Linked DNA regions of Homo sapiens. The protein of the gene in region 1 interacts with the protein of each later gene in a biochemical or structural test. Each region holds a gene or a part of one and is shown on either strand. Other genes may lie near its edges.

Evidence for each region. The genes of interacting proteins can lie anywhere in the genome.
Region 2: the proteins of LIN7A (region 1) and PDLIM7 interact in a test that uses a peptide from one of them, tested with the Homo sapiens proteins (one large-scale study listed by IntAct).

The regions. Positions count from the first base shown.
Region 1 is NC_000012.12:80,847,435-80,850,934, reverse strand, and holds part of LIN7A (protein lin-7 homolog A), read left to right. Parts: intron 1-2,612; coding exon 2,613-2,684; intron 2,685-2,759; exon of another isoform or gene 2,760-2,836; intron 2,837-3,500. UniProt on the Homo sapiens protein: Plays a role in establishing and maintaining the asymmetric distribution of channels and receptors at the plasma membrane of polarized cells.
Region 2 is NC_000005.10:177,485,250-177,487,604, reverse strand, and holds part of PDLIM7 (PDZ and LIM domain protein 7), read left to right. Parts: intron 1-2,355. UniProt on the Homo sapiens protein: May function as a scaffold on which the coordinated assembly of proteins can occur. May play a role as an adapter that, via its PDZ domain, localizes LIM-binding proteins to actin filaments of both skeletal muscle and nonmuscle tissues.

The DNA.
Region 1 (3,500 bases):
AGTTAGGAGAATTAACCGAGCTCATGGATATAAAATGGTTAGCATTACATTTGGCCCATGGTGATTTCTCATTAAATATATACCAGAATTATGGTAATTTACTCCAACAAATATTTATTGAATGTTTTACAAGAGCCTTTACTCAGTGCTATCCAAGTCTGTTTTTACAGCTTACCAATCATTGCACGTACGAAGAAAAGGTATAGCTTAATTCCTTAGATCAGGATTTCTCAATCTCAGCCCTATTGACATTTTGGCAGATAATTCTTTGTTCTGTGAGGCTTCACTGTGCATTGTAGGAATTTAGCAGCATCCTTGGCCACCACATGCTAGATGCAGTAGCATCCCATTTATGACAACCAAAAATGCCTCCAGACATTGCCAAATGTCTCCTGAAGGGCAACATTGTCCCCAGTTGAGAACTACAGCCCTTGATCAATTCTATGTAAACAGTGTTCACGAACTGCTCATCTTAGGAGATTTTCCCCAAAAGATCCATGGTCAAATAAGATGAGAAACATCAAATGCCAGCAACAGCATAACAATGATAGCTAACTTTTGGAAACATACTAAACATGGCAAATTGTTCTTATCTTATTTAATCCTCATAACAGACCTAGAAGTTACTTACTATTTTAAGGCACATTTTTAAAATGAGGAAATTGAGGATCAGAGAAATCAAGTGACTGACAAACATCATACAATTAAATGGTACAGCTACGGTTTGCTTCCAAGCCATCTTCAGAGTCTGTGAAATTATCTACTACACAGTATTGCTCCTTGAATATACCACTTTCTAATTCAAAATCAATTTGGGGTCTTAAGGCTAATTATTCTTAATTTGTGATATTTATTAGGTACAGGTATTTATCTCCAGCACTTACAAAATCACCTTTTGTTTTATTCAATTGATGACAATATTCCAATTATTTGCTAAATGATTGTCTTCATAAACATCCTTGGATGCAGGCAAAGTCACTTTCCCTGGCAATGTTAACCAAAATAACTTCAAACAAATTCAGATGACCAGGAACTGTGGAGAGACTCACTCTGCTTGAGGGAGGCAGAAAACATTTAATAGAGGAGACAATATTTGAATTTGACCTTTTATCATCATATTAAATTTGGATGAATAAGAGTCTGCCAGGTGGAAGGGCATTCCTAGCAGAGTAAACGGCATGTGCAGAGACCTAGGTAACTTGGAGAGTTCAATATGTTTGAGGAATGGTGGGGGTGGAGAAAAGAAAACAGGAAAATAAAACTAGAGAGAAGGCTGAGTTCTGCATTATTATCTGTGGCTTGACTCCTGTAGGTATTTGCCCTTATCACCTTTGCAGTAAGGGCAGCAGACAGCCAAGAGCACAGCAGGGACATGGTCAGGTAGGTACTTGATGATCACCAAAGTGTATATGGTTTGATGGCAGGGAGACCCAATTAAGTCACTAATGCAATGCTTGCAGCAAGAGATAATGAGCTAGGGTGGAATGAAGGGTCAGATTTGAGAGAGTTTATTACAAGAGAAGCAGGGCAGGGAAAATCCTCCTCTGAAATGGGCTATTAGAGCAAATAGTATAATTTATTTTTGGAAAGGCTGTCTCTATGAAACAAAATAATGCATTTCCAAGGAAATAATCTGGAAGTACGTTTAGCAGCTGTTCAGGTAACCTGGAGAATTTGCAGTAACATATCTCAGATTCCATAAATGATCTTCTGGAAACTTGTTCCTGTCTCCATTCAGATTTCCCATAGAAATTGAACACCTCATAATTGTTAAGTGGAGATTCAGAGCTAAAAGTTAGATTCTGAATTGCACTGTTGCCTTTTTAGTACAGACTACTTTGTCAATTTCCTTCTAACCATGTCACCTGGGAAAGATGAGTCAGCGTTAGTGGAGATTCAACCAAATGTATTTGAGAAATTATGAGCCAGTCAAAAATGCAGGGAAGAGATTAGTCCCAGACACTCAACAAATAGTTGTTGAATGGGTGAATTAATCAAATGTTGGATTCACTTATTTAATTTTTGAGTTAAGCATGTAAAATAAGATTAATATAAAGGAAGAAAAAAACCTTTCAACCTTCGATTGCAGTTTTTCCCTTTCCTTTTTTACTGAAATAGCTAATGGATCACTCCCCAAAAATACTCTAGCCTAGTACCAAATGGACTTTTATTGCTATGCATTATGCAATAAATTTTTACGTATACTATTTAAATCCAAAATGAACATATAGTCCAACACATTTAACCTTGTTACTTTTTTCCAAACATCTTCCTCAAGGCATCCTTTAAGTTTTTTTTTTTCTGTACTTTAGTTTAAGCAATTTATTTTACCATAGATACAAAGATTTTATAATCCCATCCCTGGAAGTTTATAAGAAACAATTTTTTTCTACTACATTTTAATGATTTCTGTAATTGTATCTAAAATCACAATGAGTAATAATATCTGCTGTTTAAGGAGTGCTATCAGGTACATTCCCAAACATCAGACCTATGTTATTTTGCAATAGAGAATTTTTTTCCTACAGTGAAAATATAATTTTCTTTCTGCAATAAAAGAATTATTATTCTTCATGTTCTTACACATTCTTCTTTTTATGTGAACATTTTAGGTGTATCAATATATGCATGAAACGATAACTGTTAATGGCTGTCCCGAATTCCGTGCGAGGGCAACAGCAAAGGTAAGGCTTGAGTAACTTTAAAAATATACTTGACCCCAGTTATCTAGTAATTGATTGTGCGCGTGTGTGTTTCAGGTATTCTCGTGTGTACACTGTAAGAGAATTTAGACATCAGTGGCAGCCCAGAGTCTAGAACCAGTACTACTTCTCAGGTAAAAATCCTAATGGAAAATTGAACGTTTCTGCTGCTTCTGTAGCTTAAGAAAGGAGAATGATTTCATTAAACTCACTTAATGTCCATTTGGCACAAGCAAATCTACTGGTTCATTGTGTGAAATACTATATGATTTTCAGACACATTCTTCTGATCTGAAAGAACCTGTATCATATTCAGTGCATGAAGATTTATTTGCACCGGTCTAAAGATTTGATTTCAAATAGACAGGAAAAGAATTCACCTGACACCCACTGATCTAGGATACTTCTGTGTATTCAGCTGAGCAGTGGGTAACTTGCTGAAAGGATGTGGCATAGACCTTATAGAAAACGCCTGTCACCTTTTGTGGTAGTGACCACATCTGCCCTTTAAAGACTCAAATCCAGAGACTGTAGAGACCCTACTAATGGAAATGTTATACCGATAACATCAGGAAATTATCAGGAAAATAGGCCATTAGGAAATACCAATTTTAAACTAAAATCACTGATGCAGCTCTTCTTTTACAAACACACAAATGTTATAATAGAAACATGACTTGCTTTTAAAAATACTTTATTTTTCTAATAATGTATAAGAAATAACCATTGAAAATGAGTAGAATTTTCCATTTAATTATTTTGTGTTACATCAACGCTTGTTTAGTTTCTCTCTTGATT
Region 2 (2,355 bases), on another chromosome or scaffold:
ATTTCTCATCTAAAAACATCCCGGGGTGGGTGGTCTGGGACTGATCTGGTGGACCCAGGCTCCGCCTTGTTGCTTGACTGTTGGCAGCACCTGCTTACTTACCACTCATGGTGCAAGATGACACTTCAGCCTCCGCCAAAATGCTCACCTTCCAGCCAGCAGGAAGTCGGAAGGAGAAGAAAGGGGACAGAGCCCCATGGCGTCCATCCTTAGAGGATGCTGCCACCTGAACCTCTGCTTTCATCCTGTTGGTCAGAACCCAGTCACATGACCACACCCAGTGGCAACGGAGGCTGGGAAATATAGTCTTTATTTTGGGCACCCATGTGTCCAGCAAAACTGGGGGTTCCATCAGTCGGCAAGAATGGGAGAGTGGCCGATGCAGTGGCTGATGCTTGTATCCCAGCACTTTGGGAGGTCGAGGTGGGCAGATCACCTGAGGTCAGGAGTTCAAGACCAGCCTGGCCAATATGGTGAAACCCTGTCTCTACTAAAAATAAAAAAATTAGCTGGGTGTGCTGGCGCACCTGTAGTCCCAGCTACTTGGGAGGCTGAGGCAGGAGAATCGCTTGATCTTGAGAGGTGGAGGTTGCAGTGAGCCAAGATTGTGCCACTGCCTTCCAGCCTGGGAGACAGCAAAAAAAAAAAAAAAAAAAAAAAAAAAAAAAAAAAAGGGCCAGGCACGGTGGCTCACACCTGTAATCCCAGCACTTTGGGAGGCCGAGATGGGCGGATCACGAGGTCAGGAGATTGAGACCATCCTGGCTAACACGGTGAAACCCCATCTCTACTAAAAATACAAAAAAATTGGCCGGGCATGGTGGAGTAGTCCCAGCTACTCGGGAGGCTGAGGCAGGAGAATGGCGTGAACCTGGGAGGCAGAGCTTGCAGTGAGCCGAGATCGCGCCACTGCACTCCAGCCTGGGCGACAGAGCGAGACTCTTGTCTCAAAAAGAAAAAAAGAAAGAGAAATCTGCCTCCCAGCCTTGGGCTCCTGCCCTACCAGCCCACACCCCTGGTAGAGCCCCCTCTCCCACCAGCTCAAAGCCCAAGTTCCTTCACTGTGACCTTGTCTGCTCCTCTAAAACAGGCAACACCAGACAGTGAGAAGAGCCAGCCAGACATGGGCAGAAAACCTATTTCTGTGATCTACTGGCTGTGTGAGCAGGGGCTAGTTGCTCTCTCTGGGCCTCACTGAAGAGAAGGGTGGCACTATGCTAGGGCCGGCACGGTTGCAAGGTAGATGTAAGATGGGGTACAGGTGTTGTGGAGGGCAGAAATGCACCATCCGAAGGCTACATGTCCCCCACACTTATGTCTTGCTTGGCCCACACTGTTTCATTTTAAAATCAGTAGCAAACAATTTAAAAAATCAGAAGATTTGCCTGCATGATGCAGTGGCTCATGCCTGTAATCCCAGCACTTTGGGAGGCCAAGGTGGGAGGATTGCTTGAGCCCAGGAGTTCAAGACCAGCATGGGCACCATAGCAAGACCCCTGTTTCTACAAAAAAAAAAAAATTAGAAAATTAGCCAAGTGTGGTGGCATGCACCTGTGGTCCCAGCTACTTGGGAGGCAGAGGGAAAGTGAGATCTCCTGCTTTTTATTTCTTTATGTATAATGATAGGGTCTTGCTCTGTTGCCCAGGCTGGAGTGCAGTGGCATGATCACTGCTCACTGCAGCCTTGATCTCCTGGGCTCAGAGGATCCTCCCACCTCAGCCTCCCAAATAGCTAGGACTAGAGGTGCCCACCAGCATGCTCAGCAGATTTTTAAATCTTTTTGTAGAGATGAGGTTTTGCTATGTTGCCCAGGCTGGTCTCGAACTCCTGGCCTCGAGCGATCCTCCCACCTTGGCCTCCCAAAGCACTGGGATTACAGACGTGAGCCACTGCGCCCAGCAGATTTCTCTTTAACACCTAGATTTCAGCCTGAGCCAGGCAGGCATTCCTGAATGAACCAGTAGTACTGCTCCCAGAAGAAGAGGTCCTCCTCCGTGTGACACAGTCCCCACTTGGCCCTTGCAGGGATTGGATCTGGGATCCCTGGATTTAAACTCAGGGCCATCCTCATAACAGCCTCACAAGGCTGGGATTAGCTTCCCAGTTCACAAGGGAAGAAACCAAGACTTGAGAAGGTCAAGGTCTGGCCAGACCCACACATCTTGGACCCTCATACCGCCTCGAGGCCCCATGCTGCCCTCTGCCTGCTCCAGATGTGAATACTGCTGGCCCTGGCTGGCCCCGGCTGGCCCCGAGGGTCCTAGGGATGAACAGCCCAGCCCAGGGAGAGCTCAGCCCCTTGTGCCTCTGCCCCTTCCCACCTCCTGCGGAGGCCAGTCGACTCACCCACAAAG